Linked DNA regions of Homo sapiens. The protein of the gene in region 2 purifies or fractionates together with the protein of the main gene of each other region. This does not show direct contact. Each region holds a gene or a part of one and is shown on either strand. Other genes may lie near its edges.

The links.
Region 1: the proteins of IFFO1 (region 2) and COBLL1 purify together in Homo sapiens (affinity purification with mass spectrometry, with the first as the bait; one large-scale study listed by BioGRID). This does not show direct contact.
Region 3: the proteins of IFFO1 (region 2) and AMOTL1 purify together in Homo sapiens (affinity purification with mass spectrometry, with the first as the bait; one large-scale study listed by BioGRID). This does not show direct contact.
Region 4: the proteins of IFFO1 (region 2) and CDADC1 purify together in Homo sapiens (affinity purification with mass spectrometry, with the first as the bait; one large-scale study listed by BioGRID). This does not show direct contact.
Region 5: the proteins of IFFO1 (region 2) and BLTP3B purify together in Homo sapiens (affinity purification with mass spectrometry, with the first as the bait; one large-scale study listed by BioGRID). This does not show direct contact.
Region 6: the proteins of IFFO1 (region 2) and HMBOX1 purify together in Homo sapiens (affinity purification with mass spectrometry, with the first as the bait; one large-scale study listed by BioGRID). This does not show direct contact.

Annotation. Positions count from the first base shown.
Region 1 is NC_000002.12:164,690,870-164,695,639, forward strand, and holds part of COBLL1 (cordon-bleu protein-like 1), read right to left. Parts: coding exon 3,400-4,770; intron 1,529-3,399; coding exon 1,352-1,528; intron 1-1,351.
Region 2 is NC_000012.12:6,545,541-6,550,310, forward strand, and holds part of IFFO1 (non-homologous end joining factor IFFO1), read right to left. Parts: intron 4,357-4,770; coding exon 4,216-4,356; intron 3,945-4,215; coding exon 3,936-3,944; intron 3,310-3,935; coding exon 3,128-3,309; intron 3,006-3,127; coding exon 2,885-3,005; coding exon of another isoform or gene 2,621-2,884; coding exon 2,525-2,620; intron 1-2,524. UniProt on the Homo sapiens protein: Nuclear matrix protein involved in the immobilization of broken DNA ends and the suppression of chromosome translocation during DNA double-strand breaks (DSBs).
Region 3 is NC_000011.10:94,868,703-94,873,472, forward strand, and holds part of AMOTL1 (angiomotin-like protein 1), read left to right. Parts: intron 1-495; coding exon 496-771; intron 772-1,986; coding exon 1,987-2,093; 3' UTR 2,094-4,770. UniProt on the Homo sapiens protein: Inhibits the Wnt/beta-catenin signaling pathway, probably by recruiting CTNNB1 to recycling endosomes and hence preventing its translocation to the nucleus.
Region 4 is NC_000013.11:49,271,355-49,276,124, reverse strand, and holds part of CDADC1 (cytidine and dCMP deaminase domain-containing protein 1), read right to left. Parts: intron 1,835-4,770; coding exon 1,785-1,834; intron 1-1,784. UniProt on the Homo sapiens protein: Catalyzes the deamination of cytidine and deoxycytidine into uridine and deoxyuridine, respectively. May play an important role in testicular development and spermatogenesis.
Region 5 is NC_000012.12:100,086,854-100,091,623, reverse strand, and holds part of BLTP3B (bridge-like lipid transfer protein family member 3B), read left to right. Parts: intron 1-2,528; coding exon 2,529-2,709; intron 2,710-4,770. UniProt on the Homo sapiens protein: Tube-forming lipid transport protein which mediates the transfer of lipids between membranes at organelle contact sites. Required for retrograde traffic of vesicle clusters in the early endocytic pathway to the Golgi complex.
Region 6 is NC_000008.11:29,012,072-29,016,841, reverse strand, and holds part of HMBOX1 (homeobox-containing protein 1), read right to left. Parts: intron 1,808-4,770; exon of another isoform or gene 1,720-1,807; intron 1-1,719. UniProt on the Homo sapiens protein: Binds directly to 5'-TTAGGG-3' repeats in telomeric DNA. Associates with the telomerase complex at sites of active telomere processing and positively regulates telomere elongation.

The DNA.
Region 1 (4,770 bases), on a different chromosome or scaffold from region 2:
AAGATCAGAAAAAGAAAACTTTTCGTGAGGTTGTGTAATTTATTAACAAGGGCATTTATCCTCCTCTAAAAATATAAATTTGTCATGACCGATGAAAAACCAATTTCAATATTAAAAGCTATACCAAATTGTTATGCTGCCTGGCACCTAAAATCAGACTCTACAAATAATTTACAAAATTCAAATCTAATCCACTGTAGTATTCCCTCCTGTTTCCTCCACTCCTGACAGCACCCAGTATTCTGCCTTGTCTCCATGTTTGCCCAGACAGGGTGCCAAGTCCTCTGGGAGGAATGGCTGTCACTCATACCTCCTCACATACACACCAAGGAAGTTGGCTTATGCAGTCAAGTTTGGCCAATGTTGATATGGTTGAAAGGCCCGGAAAGCCTTTCCCCATTTCTTTTCCTATCTTTGTAGCATTCCTGTTCCTTTGCAGGTTTAATTTCTGTTGAGCTCAATGTTTTGCTCAACAAGTCTCTTACTATTCTCTAAATGGCTTTTAAAATGATCACAGAAGGAATTCACAAAATGAAATGCCTCGGGAGTTAATGGAATAATAAGTACTTTCCTTGTCTTAGATGCGGAGGTGCTTCCAACCAGGAGAATTAAGGGGAGAAGACAAGAGAGGTTTAGGGAGAGGACTCTCTCTGGGGAGTCTAAGTGCTGATGCCTTGTTCAAAGCTTCACCACATCTTCTTCTCAGTGGATGAAGGGAACCCAAGGAGGAAATTCACCTGAAAAGAATTCCCTGTGACACTTGGGTGTTTTTCCTGAGAAAAAGCAGACTTCCTCTTTTTTTCTTCTTCTACCCCACAGTAAGGAGGAGCTAGACAACTTTGGCAGGACATTACTAAGATTTGAATTTCTGTATTATCTATCATCTACATTCTCTAGATATTCTGCACTTTTTTTTGGTTTAACCTATAAAACTCTTCCCTAAGCCTCATATATGTTAGTAACTAATCATGGCAAGAGCTATGACTACAAACTTGTAGGTTCCTATCACTAATGTACCTTTTTTGGAACAGGAAGGTGTTTTCCAAAGAGTCTTTCTCGAGGTGCTAACATAATCTCTTAAAATCAGAGTCCAGGGTATTCTCTATATAGTTATGTAAGAATGAACAAAATTCATGTTCTGCAACTGGCCCATGTTGTGGAAAATAGACCTGACATATTTTTCAAGTACGTGTAAGACTCTGGAACTCTTTCAGCTTATACTTCAAAGACACAGAAGAGTAACTTTGGGAACCCTATTTAGATTTACATGCTAGAAAAATTTTTCCCTAAGTATTAGTTTGACAATGGTGACAATAAACCCACTGTCACCCATCTGATAAAGAAGACTTACCCTTTTCAATTTGGCAGCAGCCTCTCCCGAACGGATTGCAGTCAGCAAACTCTGTCGCATCTGTTCTGGGTCAGAGCTTTGGAATGTTAAAGAACTTTGTCTCATAACAGTGAATGATGGGCCATCAGTTGGAGTTGGTATTTGGGAATTCTGTTCATTATGTGCAGAGTTATTTTCCTACAAAAATAAATGTGAAATATTTATATGAATGCCAAGAAAAGAATGGGCCATTTTTTGCAAAACATTTTCATCATCAATAGTTCTTTAACAATCACCATTTGCCACACTGGTGTTTCAGACACAGCTCTGTTTCCTCACCCACTGAATTATCTCTGCTGCCAGAGCTAAGCTGGAAGATGAGGGCATTATTCTCTCTTGAACTCAGGAAGCCAAAGAAGAAAAGTGGTACCACTCTTTGCTTCATAAATACAGTGGTAATTTTATTGTTCTTGAGTTAAATACTGCTGACTTCACCAATACACAGAACTGGTTAGAAAAGCCAAATTAAGATTTTAAAAAATACTGCAAACTAAAAAATGACCCATTTTCATGGTTTCAACATACCAGGCTATGAAATTACTATTTTTAAATGAGCAAAACAGTCAAATAGACAATGTCATATTTGTTGAATCTAATATATCTTCTAATAAAGGAATACTAATTACTATGCTACACTTAGTAGCTTATTTTGTGTTTCTGGAAGTCACATGGACTAAGTGCTAATCATGTTTTATTTTTTGCCATGAGAATCAATATAAAAAATTAGGAACTTCCAAACTGAAGACTAAAAAATTTAATTACGCTTCTCAGGAAGGAATATTTAGTAACTGATGTAAGTGGCATATGTTATCAAGTAATCTTAAATGTCTTTTTCAAACTGCCAAATACGTATCTTTACCAAAAAATGAGCCAAACAGGGCTCAGGCAATGACTTAAAAGCTTTATTATCTAAACCAAGCTTCCATTGTTTAGGAATGGTATTCTATTCCAAGAAAAATCACAGGCTTTGTGCCCAAGTAAAGAATTAATCTTTGTATCATACTTCTATTCCTGATGCTATATCAAAGTAATAAACATAAATGTAAAATACATGAAAAATATTAAGATAAATGTTGTTATACAATTATGGAAAAATATTTACTTGGCAATATGGTTAACATTCTTTTGCTCTAGGAATGTTTGAAAAAGTAATATTAAATACTTCTGGAACTGTCACACAAATATGAATGTATTCTTTAAACACTATCAGAGTAAGAGTACACAAAGTATTTCTTTAAAATTGCATGAGGATTATCATAAATCATGCTGTGAATTTCATCTTCTCCTTTGACTCTATTATCTGAAGCTAGCAAAATACAACATTTAGTTGACCAAACACTAAGTCAACAACATTCCTTTATGGTAAATATTTAAGGTTAGATAGTGGTTAGATAACAGTTTGGTCAACATACATATTATAGTTGAAAGTTGACACTGAATTAACAAAATGGGGAATTAAGAAAATTACATTTTAAAACTCTGCTTTCAATGTATTTATATGTGAAAATGTACAATATATGCAAGCTGAAGTTGAGTGTATATGATGGAAATCACATAGCTAAGAGATGCTCAGTTATTTTGTCTAGCCTCTCATACTATTATTTTTCCATTTCATTAAGACTATTTCCTTTACTATTACATAGTAATGTAAAATTGGAGAATAAACCAGAAGATTTAGACAAGTTAAAAACAAATTAAGATAACACAGGAAAATAGAACCATTAACTAGTAAATATATCATACAAATGAGCAAAGAAACTTTAAAACATTTGCTAATGACACAATTATATAATGATGACCTTACAGTAATACCTAAACAAGTTATATAAGTTATAATTGTGAGCAAATAATCAGATTTTATGTATCACCACTCTCTTCACTACAATAGCTTAATTTCAGATGAATATGAGTTCAGAGTTAAGTAGCACACAAACATCAACATGCTTGTTAACCCCCATTAAACCATGTCATTAAATTTGAATACTTATTTTTAAAAAGGCTACAGTTACCTTATCAGACACACCAAGCTGTGGGATGTCCACAAATTTATTTACAGAATGAGTCTTCCCTTCCTCTGTGTTGGCTGGAGGTTGGACCAATGCACTGGCACTAGGTGACTCGGTGCGCTCTTTACTGAAAGACTGTGACCTTTTCACTACAGCAAGAGCAAACGGTGAAGGACCAGAACTTGAGTATGGTCGTGGGGCACCAAAAGTTTTCAAAGTCTTCAGATTTTGTGTGGATACCTGACTAGCAGGAATTGTCACAGGTTTTGGAGCTATGGGAGGAGGGGAGGCTTCAGCAGGAGCCTGACCGATGACATCATCATCAGTTTTTTCAACAAGGGGTTGTGGAACAGAGTGAGGCATTTTACTTAAGGGAGAAAGAGTCTGCTCCGGAGAAGGCAGCATATCCCTTTCTGCCTCTTTATTTGTCAGTTCTTTTGGAGCAGGATTAGGGGCAGCATGGACACTCTTGGCAGCTGCAGATGTCACATAGTGACCCGATACTCTCTTCTGCATCTGCAAAAAAAAAGAGCTGGGTTTGGCCTGGGCATTTGAAGCCCGAGATTTAAATTTTGATTCCAAAATATTGTTTATTTCTTCCAAATTTGGTGCAAAAGGAGCTGTGCCAGTGTCTCTTGTCATTTTGGGAGCAGGTTTCAGAGGACTAACCATGGCATCATCAGGTGAGCTCACAGAACTGGGCACTTGATGCTCTGTTCTCAGGTTAGGCTTCGGTTTAAGGTTTGGCAGTGGCTCTTCTGGGCTTTCAGAAATAGCAGAATCTTCTGTTTGGATGGCAGTTTCTTTCACATTCTCATGAGTGTGCTTTTTCCCTAAAGCATGCATGTCCTGATCATCTTTATACTCTATGGTTTCTGATTGCCAGTCTTTCGATATTTCCAAGGATTTGGGAGGCACTATTTTATAAGTAGTCATGCCAATTTTGGGTATATACTCTCGTGTAATTTCATTTGAAGGTTTTGGCTTGGGATTGTAGTCCTGTCTATAAAGTGGGTAATTCTTTAGGTAAGAAGCAGTGGAATTTTTGTCAATCCTATCTACAGGAGGCAAAAGATCATCATTACCATGTGCACAAATTGGATCTTTTACGGTAAGCGGATCTTCTGAATGTATAATTAGGGTGCCTTGACTCCTGAATTCCCTTGAGGTATTTACAGAATCTTGTGAACTTAAGCATGAGTGTTGAGTTGATATGTTGTTATTTGAAGTTTGCACACATTCTTCAACTTTGGAGTCAGATAAATTATGATCTTGGTGTTTCCCATCAAAACTGTTACAAGAAGGGGTTGTCTGAATTGCTGCATCTTTTGTCTTTTCTGCACTGGGTTGATTCAGTTTTTGATCTGGTACTGA
Region 2 (4,770 bases):
AAAAGAAATTAGCCGGGCGTGATGGCGGGCGCCTGTAGTCCCAGCTACTCAGGAGGCTGAGGCAGGAGAATGGCGTGAACCCAGGAGGTGGAGCTTGCAGTGAGCCGAGTTCAAGCCACTGCACTCCAGCCTGGGTGACACAGCGAGACTCCGTCTCGGAAAAAAAAAAAAAAACCTCACTCTATCCAGACCAGGACATGAACCCTCCCTCTGTCCCAAGGATCCACACTGTCTATACTGCCTGCCCATTAGTTACTTAGGAGCCATCTCAGTGATGAGATTGACTGTCGTGGTATGGCAGTGCCCGTGTTCAAGGAACCCTTATTTTTACTTCATAATGGCCCCAAAGCACAAGAGTAGTGATGCTGGCAATTTGGATATGTGAAAGAGAAGCCAAAATATGCTCCCTTTAAGTGAAAAGGTAAAAGTTTTCAACTTAATAAGAAAAAGAATCCGATGCTGAGGTTGGTAAGCTCTACAGTAAGAATGAATCTTCTATCCGTGAAATTGTAAAGAAGGAAAAAGAAATTTGTGCCAGTTTTGCTGTCACACCTCGAACTGCAAAAGGTACCGCCACAGCGCACGCTAAGTGCTTAGTTAAGATAGAAAAGGCATTGAATGTGTGGGTGGGAGACATGAACAGAAACACGTTCCAGTTGACAGCAACTGGACCCAAGCTATCAGGAGGTCAGTGCTATCTTTGGTTTCAGGCATCCACTGTGGGTCTTGGAACACATGCCCTGAAGATAAGGGGGGACTACGTATGAATCTCCCATGTGGGCCTGAAGAGAGGCTGAGACGCAGAGAAGGCTCCATGCCTCTCCCAAAGTCAGAGCGTCGGGAAAGGACCACCTCACCAGGCCAGGAGAGCTCACGGGGGTCCCGTCCATCCCTCCTCCCACAGCAACAGCAACCTCCATTCTGTGGTTCCACAAATCCTTCTTCCTTTGTTTGTATTTTTGAGACGGAGTCTTGCTCTGTCGCCCAGGCTGGAGTGCAGTGGTGCGATCTCGGCTCACTGCAAGCTCCGCCTCCCGGGTTCACGCCATTCTCCTGCCTCAGCCTCCCGAGTAGCTGGGACTACAGGTGCCTGCCACCACGGCCAGCTAATTTTTTTTTTTTGTATTTTTCGTAGAGACGGGGTTTCACCGTGTTAGCCAGGATGGTCTCGATCTCCTGACCTCGTGATCTTCCCGCCTCGGCCTCCCAAAGTGCTGGGATTACAGGCGTGAGCCACCGCGCCCGGCCTCCACAAATCCTTCTTGCAGCTCCTAAAGCCTAGAGTTTGAGCTAAAGCACCAGCTCCACTTGCCTCTAGGTACCTCTAGAAGGTACTTCAAGGCTTGGGAAAAAGCATGGAGATTTCTCTGTTATCTCAAAGGCTGAGTGGAAGAAACAGGAAAGTCCCAGTCCATCTCTGAGTGCCATGGCACTGATAGTGTTAATAATAATAAAACAGTCCCCACTATGCTACACTCGCTATGAGCCAGACACTGCCCTAAGCTCTATATATGCATTATTTCATCTGATCTTCTAAACAACCCTATAGGTGAGGTATTATTAAATTCCTCATTTTACAAATAAAAAGGCCCGGCACAGTGGCTCATGCCTGTAATCCCAACACTTTGTGGGGCCGAGTTAGGAGGACTGCTTGAATCCAGAAGTTTGAGGGCAGCCTGGAAAACATAGTGACACCCTGTTCTCTGTAAAAAAAATCAAAAAATTAGCCGGGCGTGGTAGCACACGCCTGTGGTCCCAGCTACTTGGGAGGCTGAGGTAGGAGGATTGCTTGGATCCAGAAGATCACGGCTGCAGTGGGCCTGGAGTGACAGAGCAAGACCCTGTCTCAAAAAAAGAAAGAAAGAAAGAAAGAAAGAAAAAGAAACAGGTGTAGGGCTGGACACATGGCTCATGTCTCTAATTCTAGTACTTTGGGAGGCCGAGGCAGGAGGATCACTTAAGCCCAAGAGTTTAAGACCTGCCTGGGAAACACAGGGAGACACCATCTCTACAAAAAAATACAAATAAAAATTAGCTGGGTATGGTGGCACACACCTGTGGGCCCAGCTACTCAGAAGGCTGGGGTGGGAGGATCACTCCAGCCTAGGCAACAGAGTGAAACAGAGTGAGACCTTGTCTCAAAAAAGAAAGGACAGAAAGACAAGGGAGAGAGGGAGGGAGGGATAGAGGGGGAGGGGAAGAGAGAGAGAGAGAGAAAGGAAGGAAGGAAGGAAGGAAAGAAAGGAAAGGAAAGGAAAGGAAAGGAGGGGCTCAGAGGGAACAAGTAACTTATTACAAGTTCAGGGTGGTTGTAAGTAACAGAGCTGAGATTTGAACCGATATCTGTCTGTTTCCAGAGCCTGAGGTCTTCAGAGCCCACCAGGAGGACTATAGCTGAGAGATCACTCCTCCTCCCAAGACCTTGGTCTCTAGGGTCCTGCAGCAGGGATGAGGCCACTGCGCCTGCAGCCCCACTCAAAACCCTCTGGGACACCACGCCCCTGGCTTCCGCTCCTGCCCTTACCTCTATCTGGTCAATGGTCTCCTGATACTCCTTCTCCCGGGTTTTGAACAGGGACTCCGTATCTTTAATCACCTTCTCCAGGCTATCTTCCTGCTGCTGGAGTAGAAAGGGAAGCGGGGGAGGCCAGCCAAGGAGGGATGGGATGGGACGCATTCCAAAGGGCCAAGTCAGGGAGAGAGAGAGAGAGGAAGTCTGGTTAAAGAAACTGGAGAAAGAAAAGCAAAAGGATAAAGGAAGAGGGGAGACGCAGGTAGAGGATGACAGCCACATGGGGGGACAGAGCAAGGAGAGGAGCGGGGGAGTGGGCTTCAGGCTGGAGAGGCAGAGCCAGAGGGCCCTGAGGCCGGGAGCAGAGGTTACCTCTCCCTGGGCCTCTGCAGCTGCCATGGCATAGCCTGAGAAATCCTCCCAAAGCAGCAGGGTCTCCTCAGTCTCCTCCCAAGTCAGGCTGTCACAGTCGTCCTCAAAATCATACTCCCTCCTAGAGACAGGGAACCCGGGTGTCAGGGCGGGCGGGGCCTCGTCCTGGCGGGGGACTGGGGAGCTCCGGCCTCCTGGGCTGCTGTGGCGTCGGTGCTGCGGGAGCACGGCCTGCGGACTCACAGCTGGTTGAGCATGCGCTGCATCTCCTCGTTGATGCTGAGGGCTGTGCTCTCCTCCTCATCCCCATCGGGCTGGCGGGGCCCCTCACTCTCCGACAGGGAGGTGTCCTCCTCGACGGCAGCCTTGCGCTCCCGCTTCCGCCCCCCCATGGATGGGACCTTAATGGGAGACAAGTGCAGAGACTACAGAGACGAGGCCGGGTGCATGAGGAGAAAGGGCGGGAGCGGGAGGCCGGGCAGAGAGGGTGGGAATGGGGGAGAAGCATGAACCAGTAGGAAGGGGGGGCAGACAGAGAGAAAAGTCACAGTTACAATGACAGGAACAGAAACACGGACAGTCACCAAGGGCCAGACACACAGCGGGGGTCAGGGCTGCAAACCGAGAAGGCAGAACAAGAAGAAATCGAGAAGAAGAGCAGTCAGACAAGGAAGGAAGGGCTCGCTGGGGCTGCAGTCAGATGTGCATGATGGCTCAAGAGGAAATTTTTTTCTAAAAAAAGTCTTTTTGATTAAATGACTCAACTAAAAAAAAAAAAGCTTTAGGACGCAAGGAGGATGAGTGTGCAATGTGTACAAAAGAGAACCTGAATCACATCCAGATCTGGAAAGCCGGGGGAGAAGGGAGAGAAAGAAATGCAGTCAAGAGAACAAGAGATAGAGAGAAAAAGGGGGAAGAGCAAGGAAAAGGGAAAGGGCAGAAAAAAATCCGTGCTCAAGAGCCCAGCGGGCCCAAACTGAGGGCCAGGAGGCCTAGGCAGCTTAGAAACTGGGACTGGGACATTAATAAGCTTGCGTGAGATCAAACTAACCAGCTTCTTCTGTGGAGGAAGCAAGAGAGAAGATGAGAGGAAGAGAGGAGAGGAAGCAGACAGAGGAGAGAGAGGGGGAAGGGAGAGACGGCGTTAGAGACAGCTTCCACGATGCCCCTCCTGATGCTGCTCCTTACCCCCCAGTCTAGCCCCGTGAGGGCCCCAGTTGCCAGGTAAGGCTCCCCAAGCAGGAGGCAGGGCCTGCGTTCCAGGCCAGCCGCCACGGAAGCATCCACCTGCCCCACCCACCCCTGAGAGCAGAGGGCAGCTCCGTCCTCACCTGGAACATCTGGATCATGTCCTCGCAGTTGCGCTGCTGAGCCACATCGCAGAGCTTGGCGGTGATGTCGATGCGGCGGCAGATGTCCATATCCACCTTCATGGCTTTCTCCTGGATCTTGGTGTCCAGCTCCGACAGGTTCTGTCCAGGGAGCCCAGGGAACAGTGAGGAGGCGCCCAGTTCTCCAGACAAGGACGAATTAGGCCTGGCAAGGTCCTCATCCTTCCCACCACATTGCACCGGTGCCTCTTCTGTGGAGTCTCCCTGAGCTGACTGCACCCCTCTTCCTGGGTAGCGGTGGCCTCCCCACAGCACTGTGTGAATATGCTGGGCATGGGGCGGCTCGGGCCACTGCTCCCTGGCCAAACGGAAGCCCTGGAGGGCATGGCCAGTGCCTGGGACATGCAGGGGGCTCACTGGAACGACTAGCGGTCCTCATCCTCCTAGAACTTACATTCCCAGAGAGAAAGAGACTCCTGGGAATTATAAGAGTGGAGAAAGGACTATAATAATCGCAACAGCTAACACTCTTCCAGCTAACACTGCATGCTGGGC
Region 3 (4,770 bases), on a different chromosome or scaffold from region 2:
GGACCGGGGAAGCCTTGTAGTTTTTCTTAAGCACACTGCCACGCTTCAGGCCAGCCCTTCTGGGCCACGTTGGTAACAGCAAGCATGGTCTCTGGAAAGCCTTGTGGGAACCTCCCTACCCCTCCTGCTGGCAATTAGGCACTTCTCTGTTCGTCCATACCACCCTGTGAATAATTTATTTGTATCCTACAGTTTATATATTAAGTTATAATCAGTTTACTTGACAACTACTTCTCCACTCCAAAAAAAAAAAACAAAAAAAACACACAAAAAAAACCTACAATTTTTTAGGAAGGGGACTAGGTCTTCCATTTTTTATTCTCTCAGTGTTTGTTATTTTATCAGCCTTGTAATAAGTGTTTATTAAATGCTTGGGGAATGAATCAATGAATGAATGAAGCAATCATCAATCAACAAGGAACAGATCTGCAAGACTAGATTTAAAAAAAAAAAAAGGAAAAAAAGAATGTTGAAAAATCTGTTCTCTGCCCTCAGGATTGCTGCTGGGGAAGGAGCACCATGAGCATGCCTCTGCCCCACTGCTGCCACCCCCACCCACCTCAGCACTGTCCTCCATAGCCTCCACTACGGCAGCCAGCAGTGCCCACGCCAAGACAGGCAGCAAGGACAGCAGCACACAGACTGACAAGAGTGCCGAGCTCTTCTGGCCCAGCATGGCCTCCCTTCCCAGCCGCGGCCGGCTGAGCACGACCCCTGCTCACAGCCCCGTCCTGAAACACCCAGCGGCCAAAGGGACCGCAGAGAAACTGGGTATGTGGGCTACCCCACCTTGATGCCCCTGAAAACTGTGGAACTGTCTGGCCTAAGAGAATCTTTTGTTGAGCTAGAGAGGAAGCAGGGGCACCCATCAGCTCTTACTCTATGGGGATGCTATTCTAATGCACTTAGGATATGTGTGCCCTTTCTTATTACGGGAATAAATATGCATATAGACACATCTAGTTTATTACTATTTGAAATGAGTGCACGGCTTGAGACTACCCTGGCAATGCATACTTTTTAACTAACCTTTCCCCGGATGGAGTGACAACAGACCCTCTAAGGGGCTGAATGCCCTCTGGTATGTTTGGGAGCCAGAATTAGGCACCAGGTACATCAAAGGCACAAGTTCACTGTTGCCTTCAGGGCTCTAACTTACCAGGGATTCTGGCCTCAGTGGAGGACATTGTGATGGAAGGAGAAGGTAGATTGACCTGCAGAGTCGGTTAACGTGTGGCACAGCACTTGGGCCAGGACTAACGAGCTGTTTAAAATATTTACGGGAAGACAACTTGGGAGAGGTGATCTTTGCAGTGAGTCCCTAAGTGTCCTGGGTAAGAATAGACCTGGCCTCTTAAGGCACTCCTCTTAAGCAAAGGAGTACCATGGCCATGGTCAGTGGGATCCCACAAATGTTCTTAAATGGGTAAGGCTTTAAGTAGCCAGAGAGTACCCAGCCTACCATTGGCTTCTCCACATCCTAAAACCTGAGACTAATCATGGTCATGGGGACCTCCCTTTTCAGGAATTCTTTTGAGGAGGTGCAGGCTCTGTGGGCCCTAAGTTAACTGTTTCCTCCAAGGGGGTTGTTTATTTCATTTTTCAAAGTAGACAAGTAAATACAATGTTGTCACTTTTTAAAGATGTGATTCTTTTCCAAGTAAGCCAGAGAACCTGTCAAAAGTGCCTAGCTCAGAATATGCACCTGATAGTTTTGAGTAGAGGGTGTGAGGGGCTCCTGTACAGAGTCCCACTGTCATCCTCACCTTCTGAATCCTCTCCCTTCACCATCCTGGTTTGTATTTGTGTCTGAATCCTGGCCCAGTCATTCTGCATGTTCCCACTGTGGGCTGGATCATCTCACATGCCCTGTGGTGAGAATCCTGGGTGTGCAGTGGTATCGGACGTGGGTCCATTTTAGAGAACCTGGAAAGCCTATGCCCCTCCTGAGGAATGGGCAGCTGATGTTTCCCCTCTATTTGGCAGAGAACTCTCCTGGCCATGGGAAGTCGCCTGACCACAGAGGCCGGGTCAGCAGCTTGCTGCACAAGCCCGAGTTCCCTGATGGAGAGATGATGGAAGTCCTCATCTAACTGCCATCCCTGTGGAATTTCAGTACAGAACACTGACAAACAAGGAAAGCGGCAGAGAAAGAAGAAAGACCTAGAAGGTTGTAGATGGGAAATCAGGAATGATTTGAACTGATAAAGATTTCAGACTCATAAGAACACATTTTATAAATGTTAAACACAAAAACTACATGACTGAAGATAGAAGAGAATGCGATGGATTTTATTACACATGGTGGAAGAGAGAAGAGGCGTGTAGGTTTGCAAACAAAGTTAAGAAATAGGAAACTGAATTTTTCATTGTACAGAAAATGTATCTCTTGGGGAGGGCCTGTGTACCCCCATTCTCTGATTATAAACAGATAAACCCAAATGTGGATCATCCTTGGAATACCCCCATTCTCCTTGCCTCTTAGCATGTTTGATTTAAGAAAAGCCTCCAGGAAATCTTGAGAGCCTGTCTTGGCATAATGCAGTGTCACCTGTGCCAACCATGGGGTGTCCCGTGAGTGTGAGTGTGGCAGTGAGAAGAAGCATCGAGGGCGAGGGGAATATGAAAGTTGGTCTTCACCTAATTACCTGTTTGGTTTGGATTTTCAAGAGATGATTGGGCTTCTTAGCTTTTCTGAATTCTGCAGTATTTTCTAAACAGGATAGATTATGATCTCGGTCCCCATCCATCCTAACTTCTGAGTTCATCTCTGTCTCTGCTTTACAGTCTTTAATTTTTTGTTGTTCCTTCATTTTTTTCTTTTTAATAAGACATAGCAGAATTCCTTAGGTATGGGATTTATGAGACCAGTACCTGAACTGTCATCATTCCTACTGTGTTTGATAGTGACCAGTAGGACAAAGCCACGTGCCGACTTCCTGGCTGCTTCACCTTTGCATAGCTGGGTTGCAGCTGCGAACCTCATTCTGACTGTGAACTAAGCAAGCTTTGAGGAGGCAGGAGATTCCGTGGGTCCCTGTGACATATTGCATTAAGATCGTGGCACTTGCTTTTTTGTCTTTCACATCGGCTGTCTTGCAAGGAGCTTGACATTTCCAAATTCCATTGCTCTGTTTGGGGAAGACTTAGGACAGCACTCCAGGAAACAGATGACAATTTACAGACAGTTGTCTCAGTGGTTTCCAGAATCTCACCAGCCTCCCGTATAGCTTCTTGTATTGAGGCTCATGAGCGTATTCACACTCTTTCCTCCCCCGCGCACGCCTCTGCTTGCTCTCGATCAGCATCCAGACCTCCGTGGCACCAGGTTGCCTCTGTTGTGAACTTCTTTTGTAACCTACCAGGCCAGTTGTATATACAGTGTTGTCAGGTTTTTCCGGGTTTCAGTTTTGAGGCAGTTTATTCAAAGTGAGACAGAAGTGCCACGGAAAAGAGGCAGGAGTGTGTTAGGTGGTGGGTCCATTAGACCTCTGCTGTGACATTGCATATTCAGCTCTGCAGACACTGGCTTCCTTTACAAATCTAAGAGATGCTGGATTAGAAAAGAGGAGAAGCTCATCGGGCCATCAGAGAGATGCTCCTACAGGGTCCTGATGTTTTTGTACCTCCAGGTCAGCTGGATCGCTGTTTTCCCAGTTCCCTTTGCTCATGCTTACTTAGAGGAAGAAAGAAAGGGGGGTACCTCTTCCAAGTACCTTCTAAATGAAACACTCAAGAGAGTGCTACTCAGGAAACTTTGCTTGGATCCTAAAATGGACTGGTCTTGGGTGTGTAACCCCGGTGAAGTTATAGCCTCCCCAAATTGAGGTGACAGAAGGAAGACAAGAGGTGTAAGCTGGAGAGGGAAGGGAAGAAATCAGTGGCTTTGGCCAGCCTCTGTGCCACCCAGTACGACAGAGGAGTGGGAACTGGCCCTCTGGGGCTCTGCTTGGCCATAGGCACTGCACATTGTGCCACCTGCTCATCACCTCCTCTAGTCTCACACTGAGCATCGGAGTACCTGTTGTGCAGACAGGAAAACTGAGGAGCTCTGAGAGGCTGAGCATGGAGCTCACCCCATGCCATAGGGTGTGGGAAGAGGGCACAGGAGGCCTCATCCATGGGGGAAAGGGTTGAGGATGGACATGGGTGGGGAGAGGGCATAGACATCCCTTCCTAATCTCTGTTCCCACCACATTTCATAGGAGATGAGTTAGGAGATGACAGCTAACTCTCTTAAGGACATTTTGACCCCAGTTTATGTTGGGGATGGACCAGAAAGGAAAATGTCTAGAGATAGGAAGGTAAATCAACTCTGCCAGCCCCTACCATCAGGTCTGGGCCACCCCAAACTTGGGCTGCCTCCCTTAGACATAGGTTAGAGTGAGAGACCCAGCTGTTTCTCCCGAAGCCTCGTCTTCATGCCCCAGACACCTGATTGCCCCAATCAGGTGTCAGACTTGCTTGCTCTTCGAGGTCCCCCTGAGCTGCCAAGTGTTTTCATTGTAAACAGACACATCGCCATGTTTCAGGGCTTCAACGGCATTGTATTTTGGACTTTGACCGTATTTTTTTTCTCTTAACCTACTGAGACTCTTCCTTAAGAACAGGATCTATAGCTTTAAAATGTCTTCTTCTATGGGAAATTTCCTGCCAAGCCAGGGCACTAAATTCTTTCATCATTAGAGCTTTCCTGAAGTCCGGCCATATACTGAGTACCTGCTCTGAGTTCTGGGCAGCTTACAATATCTTAAACAGATTTTCAGAAAA
Region 4 (4,770 bases), on a different chromosome or scaffold from region 2:
ATGATTAAATATTTTCTTAAAATTAATTTATCTGTCTTCCTTTTAAAAACATGGCTCCAGCTGGTTGCAGTGGTTCACACCTGTAATCCCAGCACTTTGGGAGGCCAAGGCAGGTGGATCACGAAGTCAAGAGATTGAGACCATTCTGGACAACATGGTGAAACCCCATCTCTACTAAAAACACAAAAATTAGCTGGGTGTGGTGGCACACACCTGTAGTCCCAGCTACTGGGGAGGCTGAGACAGGAGAATTGCTTGAACCCAGGAGGCAGAGGTTGCAGTGAGCTCAGACTGCACCACTGCACTCCAGCCTGGCAACAGAGTGAGACTCTCTCTCTCTCTCTCTCTCTCTCTCTCTCTCTCTCTCTCTCTCTCTCTCTCTCTCTCTCTCTCTCTCTATATATATATATATATATATATATATATATATATATAACACCTAGAAAATTTAAAATTCAGTTTGAGCCTTGCCTTTTCTCTCTACTGGTTAGTGCTGTGCTATAGTATGTCACTGCCAGGATAAAGTCCAAAATCTTTACATGGAATATAGAGTTCTTCATGGTCCCGTCCACTTTGTTGCTTACTCTATGTGCCAAATCAAATGCGTTTTCCCATATTCTCTCTCTCACCCCAGTCTCTGTGTGTTATTCTCCTGGTCCCATTAACTTGCTCTGCCTGATGATATCCTCCTAATCTTCAAGAATTTTAACATTATTAATATTAATATTAAGAATATTCAGGGCAGGCATGGTGGCTCACACCTGTGATCCCAGCACTTTGGGAGGCAGAAGAGGGTGGACTGCTTGAGGCCAGGAGTTCAAGACCAGCCTGGTCAACATGGCAAAATCCCATCTCTACTAAAAATACAAAAATGAGCCAGGTGTGGTGGTACATGCCTATAGTCCCAGCTATTCAAGAGGCTGAGGCATGAGAATCACTTGAATCCAGGAGGCAGAGGTTGCAGTGAGCCAAGATTGCACCACTGCACTCCAGCCTGGGTGACAGAGGGGGACTCTGTCTCAAAAAAAAAAAAAAAAGAATGTTCACCAAGAATATTCATGTTATCCTCCTGGTCCTATTGACTTGCTCTGTCTGAAGAAATTATCTTATTCTTCAAGAATATTATATTAGTAACATTAATAATATTCACCAACAGTATTTACTTATTTTTCCAAGCAAAGGTTCCTCCTCTATGTTCTCATGATATCAGTTATAATTACACTTACATATCAGTTATATTTTACTTCTACATCTCCATCACTAAACTATGAGGCCATAAAATGTGATCTTTAATCCCCAGCATTCACTGTGGCACAGTGCCTAACCTGTAGAGAGTGTTTAACAAATGTTTGCTGAATGAATGCGTCTATCTAGAAAACTGTTGAGGGATGAGCAAATCTTTATAGATCTTCATAAATGCACCATTACAAAAATATTAATATTTTTTTTTTTTTGAGACGGAGTCTCGCTCTGTCACCCAGGCTGGAGTGCAGTGGCACGATCTCTGCTCACAGCAAGCTCGGCCTCCCGGGTTCACACCATTCTCCTGTCTCAGCCTCCCGAGTAGCTGGGACTACAGGCACCCGCCACCACGCCCAGCTAATTTTTGTATTTTTTTTTTTTTTAGTAGAGATGGGGTTTCATTGTGTTAGCCAGGATGGTCTCAATCTCCTGACCTTGTGATCTGCCCGCCTTGGCAGTCAGTAACCTGTAATGCACCGAAGACTGAACTATGTTTAAACAAAATCCAGGTTAAATATTTAAAGAATTGTTTTCATACTTACAGATTTCCCTTCTGCCCAAATGACTGCCCCAACTCCTGTTTTATGATCCTCTGAAAGATATATGGCATTTAACTCAGTAAAAATTATGATATGTTAGTTTTAGAAATATATTTTTCCAAAAGTAATAAAAACTTGTATTGAAACATACTTCATAAATGTAGCAGCAATCCTTGTATCTTCACTAATTACAGAAAAGTATTAAAATAAACACTTTTAAGTATGGAATATGGGAGCTAGGTACCAAATAACTAGAGAGAGTCACTACCAACTCAGTCACACATACGTATGTGGAGGCCACTAAATGGCAGTGTCCACAGTCAGGTCCCTCAAAGCTGTAGCCAGAACTAAGTGCAACTTCATTGATTCTCCATTAACAAGCCGGTTTCTAAACAACTACTTCTGATAGGTGATAAAATTTAATAAAGGTTTCAGAACTAATGGATTTTGTGTAATAACTGTTCACAACAACCAAATTTGTCTTTTCCCAGCATTATTTATACTCTAATCATGGAAAATATATCTTATGAAAATGTTCTTGCTAAGAAAAAAGTTCAAACTTCTCATACGAACATAAACAAATCTTTATGGATCTATCTATCTATTGCTAGAAAGTACATGAAGAGAATTCTGATTTAAACAAAATGTTGTCCTTTCTTTGACCTTCAGTTTACCTTGAGGGAAAAAGAATGCAAGTTAATGACATCTTGCCCATTTCTAAATCAAATAGCAGAAGTTATAAACAAACATAAGATTATAATTTCCCTGTAGAACCAAAACCTTTGCAAAAGTAAAGCTGTACTTCTTAAAACCATTAATCTGAAACAGAAAATTAAAAAACAAAATAGAAATTCTACATATTAAGGATTTACTTTTTCCTTCTATACAATGTTGAGTTTCAAATTTCTAAGACAAATTACACTAATTATGAAAACCATAGTATTTATCAAAATCTTAATAAGGGACTAAGGTAGTTAAGTGGCACATTTACACGTAGAAAATAACAATTATCTGTGAACTTACCCTAAGGCATTTTCATTTTGGGGAGGATTAACTGAAACCGTGGTTTCACCCTACAATTTCCTAAAAGTGAATCCCTCCAATGATAACATTTTTAAATACCTACTTTCCAGTAAAGGTACAAAGAAAATTTGTGCCACAATTGCATTAAAAACTAGAATGAATGTCTTATTAAGAGGTTAACTTTAAAACAGTTATGATACTCTAATAAAATTTCCCATCTCAAATTCAAGCAAACCCTGGTTTTCAAAATTATACCACAAAGCATTTGTATAATTTATGTTAAACATGTTTATTCATGATCTCATTTTTACCCTAAAGGTAAAGCAGATAAAATTTCCATTTCTAGATGCAGAAACAGGCAAAGAAATAGACTAAAACTTAGCCCTCCAGATCCAACCTGCTTGGCCTTTCCTCCACCTTGCACCGTGACATAAAGAATTCCTTGACACAGCCTGGCCAACATGGTGAAACCCCGTCTCTACTAAAAATACAAAAATTAGCCAGGTGTGGTGGTGCATGCCTGTAATCCCAGCTACCTGGGAGGCTGAGGCAGGAGAATTGCTTAAACCTGGGAGGCGGAGGTTGCAGTGAGTTGAGATCGTACCACTTCACTCCAGCCTGGGGGACAGAGCAGAACTCCATCTCAAAAAAAAAAAAAAAAAAGAAAAAGAAATCCTTGACAAAAATTTCCATTTATTGAATGCCTCTTATGTTCCAAGTACTGTGAGAACTGAGGATGCAGTGGTGAGGGAAACTGTAGTCCCTTCCTCATACGACTTACAGTTGGATGGTGAAGGAGAACAGCAACAAGGAAACAAACAGTACTTTATGTGCTGTGCTCTGAAGGAAATAAATGAGGCTGAACAGCAGAGTGCACGAGATGACTTCCTTCTACAGAGTAGAGGGAAAAGGGATTTTGGTGTAAACAAAATTGGGTTCCTTCCTAGACCTTTAGAGTTTAACATGAGTGGGCAAGAATACAAATCAATGGCTTTATGCTCATTTCTAAGGTAAGTGGCAGAAGTTATAAACATAAGATTATATTTGCCTGCAAAACCAAAATCTTTAAAGTTTTATTTAATTTATGCATAAATCTAAAATGAAAAAATAAAAAACCAGAATAAAAATTCTCCATATTAAAAGCCCCCTTTTCTACCATCAACACTGCATATTTTTAATGTTATGTTTCTTAGTCACAGAAGCCACTTTTTCTGTTTCAGCCTGGGGACAGACTAAACCTTGTTAGGAGGAAAAAAAAAATGTGATTTTTCCATCAGCATGCAGCTCTGCTGCCTAGCTAAGGTTGGTTACATCAAGAGAATATTCTTTACTACTTGTCTTTTAAAATAGGAATAAATTTTCATCCATATAAAACAGATTTGATGTCACTCAGCATCAAGGCTGGTGACAGATGAGGTAATTTCTCAAAAATCTTTTCATGTCTATAATTTTTACAGAAATTGCTCCCTATGATCTGGTCATTCACAGGGTTTTCTCTGTACAACTTTGAAGGAAAGGTCAACTTACAATCATTGAGTCAAATTCCTGGGGCTCTTTGATCACTGAAAATCAGAGGGGAACTTTTTGTTCTAGAACACAGGTGTGGTTATTTTAGCTCCCAATCCTGTGGTCATGTCAGTGTCCAAGGTGCTCCACAGTCCTCTTGCATCAAAATTACTGGATGCTTGTTTTTAAAATTTAAAAAAAAAAAAAAAGAGGCAACTCCTGGCTTCCATGGAAGTCCCCTAAATCAACCTCTCTGAGAGAGGCAGGCAAGGCTTAGGAATCTGCATTACTCCTGAGCTCCCCCTTGATTCTCAGGCATACTCATATCTGAGAACCACTGAGTTCTGTTTTAAAAGTTAACTTTCTTGATTACTCCAGCCTACTCTCATTATCAGTACTGTGGCCCAGGAGGAAGGCATAATCCTTAGCTTTGGAAAACACCTAATCTGATGAGAAAGCA
Region 5 (4,770 bases), about 94 Mb from region 2:
GGCTGAGGCAGAAGAATGGCATGAACCTGGGAGGCAGAGCTTGCAGTGAGCCGAGATCATGCCACTGCACTCCAGCCTGGGCAACAGAGCGAGACTCCATCTCAAAAAATAAAATAGAATAAAATACAAAATTAGGGGCCGGACGCTGTGGCTCACGCCTGAAATCCCAGTACTTTGGGAGGCCAAGGCGGGCAGATCCCAAGGTCAGGAGTTTGAGACCAGCCTGTCCAACGTGGTGAAACCCTGTCTCTACTAAAAAAATACAAAAATTAGCTGGGCGTGGTGGCGGGCGCTGTAGTCCCAGCTACTCTGGAGGCTGAGGCAGGAGAATCGCTTGAACTGGGAAGCAGAGGTTGCGGTGAACCGAGATCATGCCACTACACTCCAGCCTGGGTGACAGAGTGAGACTCTGTCTCAAAAAAAAAAAAAAAAAAAAAAAATTAGCCAGGCGTGATGGTGCACGCCTATAATCCCAGCTACTTGGGAGGAAAATCACTTGAACCCAGCAGGCGGACGTTGCAGTGAGCTGAGATCATGCCACTACACTCCAGCCTGGGTAACAGAGTGAGACTTTGCCTCAAAAAAAAAAAAAAAGGATTATTCATGAGGCAGAGAGCTTATAGTGGCCCATTTTTTTTCTTCCAGAAATAGCATCCCAAAACCTGACTTTACCATAGTATTAAGAAAAAGGTTTGTAGGTAGATAAATGTTTATATTTTTATTTTTATCAGTATTTATCTTGATAAGAGAGAAAACATAATGAAAGAAGTACCGGAGAGTATTTTAAATAGCACCATCATAGACATAAATACAGTCTTGTTATAGCTTTGAAAATGGGAAAAGCAGGAGAAAAAGTGTTTGATATCAGTTTAACAATTAATTAATAAAAAGTTTTCTGGAGTCTATAGTATTTAACGTTTTACAGCTATATTTCACTTTGTTTCTTTACTTACCTTGGGCTGCAATCATTTTCATGAAGAGATTCTCATTTACTAAGTATACTTTGCAGTTCTTTTACAGTATGATCATAGTTCTTCATAGATGTAATATGTGTAAATATATATACATGCAAAATACATATACTTTGATTTTCTTTAATTATCTTTAGTTAATAACTTGTTCTAAATTTGAACATTGTTAATTTTTAAAGTGGAAAATTTGGTCTTATAATTATTATAAAAATTCATCTACAGTTTTGTGGCTCATATGTCAGATAATCTTACATTATAGTTATGTATACAAAATAATTTTAGGCTATTAGAGGTTCATATTTATTTTTATATATCAACAGGGTTCTATACTATTTCTCTTCAGGGAGAAAAATATTTGAACTCACAACCTATTTATAAATCCTGTCTCCTTTCTGGCTTCTTTAGTTATTCAAGTTCAAAGGACATACCACATCTTTTAGGAGAGGCACCAGAGCACTTAGAGTACTAAATAATATCACAGGGGCTTCTACAAAGATGTGCTTTATTTCTATAGGATATCATATTAGTCCCTTTTCACGCTGCTGATAAAGACATACCCGAGACAGGGCAATCTACTTACAGTTCCATGTGGCTGGGGAAGCCTCGTAATCGTGGTGAAAGGCAAGGAGGATCAAGTCCCATTTTACATGGATGGCAGCAGTCAAAGAAACAATGAGGAAGCTGCAAAAGCAGAAACCCCTGATAAACCATCAGATCTCGTGAGACTTATTTACTACCACCAGAACAGTATGGGGGAAGCCACCCCCATGATTGAATTATCTCCCACCAGGTCTCTCCCACAACACGTGGGAATTGTGGGACTACCATTCAAGATGAGATTTGGGTGGGGACACAGGGCCAAACCATATCAGATATATAACAGTGTATACAGGGCCCACATTTGTTTTGTTTTTAATATATATAATATTCAAATAAACTGCCTTTAAGAGTTAACTACATTTTCTAAAACAAGGGCTATAAATATGTTAAATATAACTTCAGATATTTACTGAGATATATTGGGTTCATATTTGATTTGTGTATAGTTTTACAGTTTTTTTGTTTGTTTTTTTGTTTTTGTTTTTGTTTTTTTGAGATGGAGTCTCGCTCTGTTACCCAGGCTGGAGTGCAGTGGCACGGTCTCAGCTCACTGCAGCCTCTGTCTCCCGGGTTCAAGTGATTCTCCTGCCTCAGCCTCCCAAGTAGCTGGGATTACAGGCATGCGGCACCACGCCCAGCTAATTTTTTATATTTTTAGTAGAAATGGGGTTTCAGCATGTTAGCGAGGCTGGTCTTGAACTCCTGACCTCAGATGATTCGCCTGCCTCGGCCTCCCAAAGTGTTGTGATTACAGGCATGAGCCTAGTTTTACCGTTTTTAAATTTTAGTTTTATTCTTAGGTAATTCAGAAAATATTTTAGGGAAAATATATTATTGATGAAAAATAAGATGTACTATGGTTATTTTTCATGACTTTCGACTGAAAATACTTAGATTTTTGTGTGAAATTTCCAGTATTTAAATTGGCAGTGATAAGGCAGTTTCGAATCTTTTTAGAGCTCTACAGTAGTCGCATCTGCCCAGCAAGTGAAGACAACGCAAACTTCAAATGCTCCTGATGTAAATGATGCAATTGTGAAACTATTCAATGATTTTGATGTTAAGGAAACCTCCCATCATTTAGTGATTTCTCATCTAGATCTACACATATGTGATGACATTCATGCTAAAGAAAAAGGTAAAATAACTTGCTTATTTCAAACTATTTTGGTTTTTCTAGAATTGACTACAAAACTGGATTGTTTATTAAATCTGTTGTGTAGGATGTCCTGTAAGATAATTTGTCATAATTGTGTTCATATGAATATATAGATGAAAGGCACAACTGGAAGCATATATTGGTATGAAATTTTATTTTGCTTTAGCAGTACTTAAGCTTAATTATTTGTTAGCTATCAATGCTAACAATAAAATTAGCTTTAAAAAAATCAGACTGAATAGATGATCCTCTAGGAGGATGATGAAATATTAGACTCGCCTTTGAATTAACTTTTTGATAATGTTGAAATTGTCTCCAAATTAAATTTTAGTCCATACTTAATTCATAATTATTTGTAGATGTGTTTTCAGCATTGCAGTTTTTCTACCTATTTTGAATAGAAGCACAACTGTGCAACTATTTAACATATTTTATGGCCACCTCTCTTCCCATCCTTCCAAAATTTGATTAGGAAGCAAAATTCCAGTTAGGAATTTTCTTTTAGTTTTTGTCCCTGTTATTTTTCCTTATTTAGTAGATGTAGTTCTGTAATCTAGGCGCTGGGCGTTTTTGTTTCTCTGCTGGAGAGCATCCCTGGCCCAGAAGTGTTGGGGTTGAGTTCAGCAGGTAGGCCTACCTTAAGGACTATAATTCTCAAACTTTGGTGAGCATTAGAATCAGGCTGAAGACCTTTAAACAATAGAGTTATCTGATCTCTGTGCCTCAGATCTGAATCAGGATCTATATCTACAAAAATTTTTGCCATGTGTTTTTAAGCTGAGAAAGTGAATATTGAGACCCTGGATACTTAGCAGTAGAAGTTACCCTGCCTTCATTAGACAAGGCAGCCTAAAAGATTCCAGCCTAAAAGGTTGGAGGGGCAAAGGTGAGGAAGATTCGGGGTTTGTGGAGGGATTTGTTATCTTTTGTTCTGACTACCATTGTGTCATTTGACTTATAGTTGGCATCTTTTACTTTAGAGATTTGAAAGGAAAATCCAAAAAAGTTAGAACAAACCAAACTAAGAAAATGAGGTGGTCAAGATTAAGTAGTAAGAATGAGAATGGAGAAAGTGTTTTCTAAGGCCTTACATTCCTCACTATTCCCTGATAGAATAAATTGAATGATTTTATTTAGGAAGAAAACCTTTTCACCAAAATATCTCCTTAATAGTACAGGTCTGTAATCACTATTGTGAAATCCAAAAGGCTCTGAAATATTATAAGTTTGTGAAAAACTCATTTGGTGGCAAAACCTGACTTATGCCAATACTTTTTTTTATTCTTTGCCTGCTTCCTATAAATATTTATGTTTTGCTGCAGAATTGCTATTTTTATTAGTGCTGCCTCAGAACCTGCTGAGAGTGTTGCATGGTATATCCTGTATATACCGTATCATATTACTGTCGTGAAATCTAAACATTTCTGAATTCTGAAACATTTGGCTTTCCAAAGGTTTTACGTAAGGGATTGTAGACCTGTGCTGAAAATTCTACTAGTTGAGATAAATTGGATTTTACAAATTAATATAGGGAGTGTATACATAGCTATGTCTCAGTTAGTATTTTTCTTTCTTCTGATTGATTTGCCCATTTTGTTTTAAAATTTGATTTTTATGTTCACGTTATACCAATTTGTAATCTACTTTTGATTTTACTATAGCTGTGTGACTTTGGACAACTTACCTAACCTAACAGACTTTTAATAATTTCCCTTTTTTTTTTTTTTTTTTTTTTGAGATGGAGTCTCACTCTGTTGCCCAGGCTGGAGTGCAGTGGCTCAAACTCGGCTCACTGCAGCCTCTGCCTCCCAGGTTCAAGCGATTCTCCTGCCTCAGCCTCCCAAGTAGCTGGGACTACAGGGGCGTGCCACCATGCCCAGCTAATCTTTGTATTTTTAGTAGAGACGGAGTTTCACTATGTTGGCCAGGCTGGTCTCGAACTCCTGACCTCGTGATCCACCCGCCTCGGCCTCCCAAAGTGCTGGGATGACAGGCGTGAGCCACCGCGCCCAGCCTTAATTTCCTTTTCAGTAAGAGGTA
Region 6 (4,770 bases), on a different chromosome or scaffold from region 2:
CATCTGTCTTGGATGCTTTCTCTCTTATTCACTCAAGGGAAAACTAGCTGCCGTGTGAGGACACTCAGGCAGTGGATGGTGAGGCCCATGTTGTGAGGAACTGATGTCTCTGACCAACAGGCAGTGAGGACCTGGGACCTGTCCACATCCACATGAGTGAGTTTCCAAGTGGACCATCCAGTCCCAATGACTGCAGCCCAGGCTGACAGCTGGACAGCAACCTCTACAGAACTCTGAGCCAGAAACAACCAGCTAAGCCATTCCTGGATTCCTGATCTATGAAAACTATGAGATAATAAATGCTGGTTGTGTTAAGCTGCTAAATTGTGGATAATTTATTGTATAAGAATAGATAACTAATAAAAATTATCACAATCATCCTCAGTTGTTTATTTCCCTTTATCCCCCAATACACTATTATTAATTATTCAAATGTATAAATTTGGCAGCAAAAAATTTCCCTTTAATATAGAGACTTCACTACTAATAAGAATGAGCATCTTTTCCTGTTTATTGACCATTTATATCTTTTCTTGTGAATTTCTATCTGTTGTTCCTTTTTTAGGGGGTTATTCTTCTTATGGGTGCAGAGAAATCATAGCAATTGCTAGTCATACAGAATGCAATTTTTTTCTGGTCTGTCATTTGTTTTTTATAGTGTGCTTTGTGATCTTAATTTTAATACAGTCAAATTTGTCAGTCTTTTGTATTATGGCCAATGGGCTTGAATATCACTGAGTATCTTTATATCTTTCATTTTGTGTTTCAGCCTTTAATATGTATGTGATTTCTTATAGCATGTGATGGAAAGTAAATATTTAACTACTTAACATTTCTGCTTAAACAAGTAAGTTTGTCATCATATAATGCTTTAGAGATTTACAGCCCACCCTAAAACAGAGTTGGCAAATTATACCCACTGCCTATTTTTGTAAATAAAGTTTTATTGAAACATGCTCATGCTCATTCATTTACAGATTGTCTATGGCTATGAATGCACTGGAGCAGAAGAGCTGAGTAGCTATGATAGAGATCATATAACCTGCAAAACCTAAAATATTTACTGTCTGGCCCTTTATATGAAGTTTGCCAACCCCTGGTTTAAAAACATTTCTGCTCTACCCAACATGAAATTCTAAACTGAAACCCTTCTTTAAACAATTTAAAAGGGTTTCATTCTGCCAAAATAAACTGAGAATTCAGTCTGGGCCTAATTGAAAGTTAACTAAGTTTAGACATAAGCAGGAATTTGGGGGCTGGAGGGTTTCACAGTCTTATAGTGCTTTTCTGAAAACAAGTAGGGATTACAGCACAGCAAGAGCTCTGGAATCTACCTAATTAAAATTATATAAATGTTATTCTATAGCAAGGGTGAAAAGGACTAAAACAGAGCCAACCGGTTATCATGGCTGATCAAGATAAAGGTAGAAATAAGACTCAGTAAGGGAATACAACCTCTTGTCCAGGGGCTGACCCTTGTAAAGAAAGAAAGAGCTTCAGGATGGAGGGTGGGCAATAGGTCAGTGAATTCCAGGTAGTAGGCCACATCCATAATTGCGGCATGCTCCTTAGTAAGCAGAGTGGTAAATGGGTACAAATAGAACACAGAACAGAAAGAATCCTAACCAAGAGGTTGAAGGAAATAAGCCAACTAATAATAATGGTTCTTTCTTGGTATTGGGGTTTATTATTAATATTATGCTTCTTTGTAATATTCAGTATTGTCAAGACAGTCTCAAGAACTGAAGGAAATTCAGATGAAATAAAACTGGGCAGGAAGGAAAAGGAAGAGGGGAGAAGAAAAAAGGAGAAAAAGAAGACAGAAAAGTAAGTAGTGGCCTGGTTATTTTGAAAGAAATCAAGGCCGGGCGCGGTGGCTCATGCCTGTAATCCCAGCACTTTAGGAGGCTGAGGCGGGCGGAACACCTGAGGTCAGGAGTTTGAGACCAGCCTGACCAACATGGTGAAACCCTGTCTGTACTAAAAATACAAAAATTTGCTGGGTGTGGTGGCACACGCCTGTAATCCCAGCTACTCAGGAGGCCGAGGCAGGAGAATCGCTTGAACCCAGGAGGCAGAGGTTGCAGTGAGCCAAGATCGTGCCACTGCACTCCAGCCTGGGCGACAGAGTGATACTCCATCTCGGGGTGGGGGAAAAAAAAGAAATCAAGACAGTTTACACACAGAAGGTGAAAAATGAATAATCTTAAATTCATCAAAATACCTACTTTAAAACATAATGTTACATTACTTTTCAGATTTTTTTCTGGCTCCTTTTTCTTTTTCAATGTAGCAGTAGTTAAAAACAGCACAAAAAAGTACTCTGGAAACACTCTATTAATAACAGATTTGTTCTGGAAACCTTAGTTCATCTTGCTTTGGTTGAAATGGATGAAAAGCAAGAGCGAGTTCAAAATTACTGACTCTAACAGAAAAACACAAAGACACTAGAATGCAGGAACAATGTATTTAAGCCTTTAAACTCCTCTGAAGTAAAATACAGGAATTCTGGGTTGGCTAAGGTCCTAACAGGAAAAGTGTGTTGTCTATTTCCTTACAGAAATCTTTTTTCCCCCCATCTAAGTTTCCATTAAAACAAAATTTTGCACCTTCACCTAGCAAATCTAAACCCATGAGGAAAAAAAAAACCCAAAACTCTTTTCATAACTTGTTAAGACATATAAAAATTTGGTAAGTGTTCTCTTTACATATATCATAATGTCCTTGCTGATCAGGGTTAGCTCTGGGTGAGGGGACTATAAGCACATCATTACTACGCCATCCATAGGAACTAACCTCTCCAAAAGTAATTTCACATCTTCCCCCATGTCACACACGTTTCCCTGAGATCTAACACTCTGCAAGTGAAGGACTGGATGTTTCTTCTGATGACATTTATCTCATGTATTTGCTGCATAACCCTCTTGGCAAATTTTATTTAATTGTTTAGAAGCATGCAGAATATGCACCACATGCCAAGAGGAACTCAGCAAACCCTGTCTGCTATAGTAATGTTTAAATTAGACAAGGGAAAAAGACTGTGAACTTAATTTGATTAAATAAAGGGACTTTTGATGTCAACCATCCTGAATTTAGCACTCACTTTTTTTTAAAAAATAGGTATTTTCTTATAAGTGTTTTCATAAGAAACAAGATAAAATGTATTTGATTAGTTTCCATCAGCCTATTTTATTAATATGCCTTGGCAGGCTTTCATTTATGCTGGTAAATTCTGATGATGAGTCTGTTATCAGAGAACTACACTATATCAATCGGGTTATCAGTAAAATTAACCTAAATATCCATTCTATTATTTTTCTTGATGAGTCCACTTAAAGAGAAACTTACAAAAAACCAAAAGCCATATACAACTGGATCCAGACTGAAGAGGTTGAAAAAAAGAACTTCCGCTGGGTGCGGTGGCTCATGCCTATAATCCCAGCACTTTGGAAAGCCGAGGTGGGTGGATCACGAGGTCAGGAGTTCAAGACCAGCCTGGCCAACATGGTGAAACCCCATCTCTACTAAAAACACAAAAATCAGCTGGGCGTGGCGGCACGTGCCTGTAATCCCAGCTACTCCTGAGGCTGAGGCAGGAGAATTGCTTGAACCCGAAAGGCAGAAGTTGCAGTGAGCCAAGATTGCGCCACTGCACTCCAGCCTGGTGGCAGAGCTAGACTCTGTCTCAACAACAACAACAAAAGGACTTCACTCAAAGTATACAAAGAGAAATGCTCCAACGCCCAGGAATAGAGTCATAGAATATACAAACATTTTTGTTTTCTAAATGCTTAAATTTACAGAAGAAAAAAGAAAAAGTAGTTTTTCATTTTGTGACTTTTCTTAATTTTGCATTTTCTTCTCAGAATATATGTAAAGGGATCACACTATTTACATTTACCCTAAAGAGCTATCTTTCCTAGACAGAAAAAAAAATTATGAAATAAAAGAATTACTTGATAAAAATCACTGACAACTTATTTTCTACCTGCTTCTCAAAAGCAGGTCTGGACTGTATAAACCTAAGTTTTTCTTCCTTTTCTTTCTTTCTTTTTAATCTTACAAGGCAGATTGATTTCTTTTGGTCTGTCTCCCCCTTCCTATTACACTTTATTTTTCAAATATATAATACAAGTACATAGTATGAAATTTAGAAAGACACATTAGGCTGTGTAGTTAACTCCTTACCCCTGTACTCCCAGTCACTCAGTTCCCCTCCACAGAGCTATTCTTCCCAGTTCCTAACACAGCTTTTCAGAGATTTCTATGCTTAGATAAGCATATACATGTGTATGTGTGTGTGTTCCCCTACATAAATATGCCCTTGATACTGTTATGTACCTTTTTTACTTATGAATTCCATATCACCTCATATAAATTTAATTCATATAAAGCTGCCTTCAAAAAGTAGTTATATGGCTCCATAAGATTCCATTGTACAGATGTGCCATTAATTTATTTAACCAGTTCTCAACTGAGGGACATCTGGGTGGATTCCAATCAGGTCTGAAATGACTTGCAATGAAGGATCTGCTGTCCTATAAGCTAACATAATTTTAGTTCATCTTAACCAAACATAATAGTAGCTCCAAATTCTTTAGCTAAAATCAAAGGTTATTTTAGTCAACAAAACAAAATCACTTTTATCGAGAAAGAATTCTATGTGATATTTGCCTTTATAATAAATGTCAAAATGCAAAGAAAAAGACAAACAAATTTCAGTTGCTAATACCCAATTGCTGTTAACGCAACAACAACTACCAAATGGCA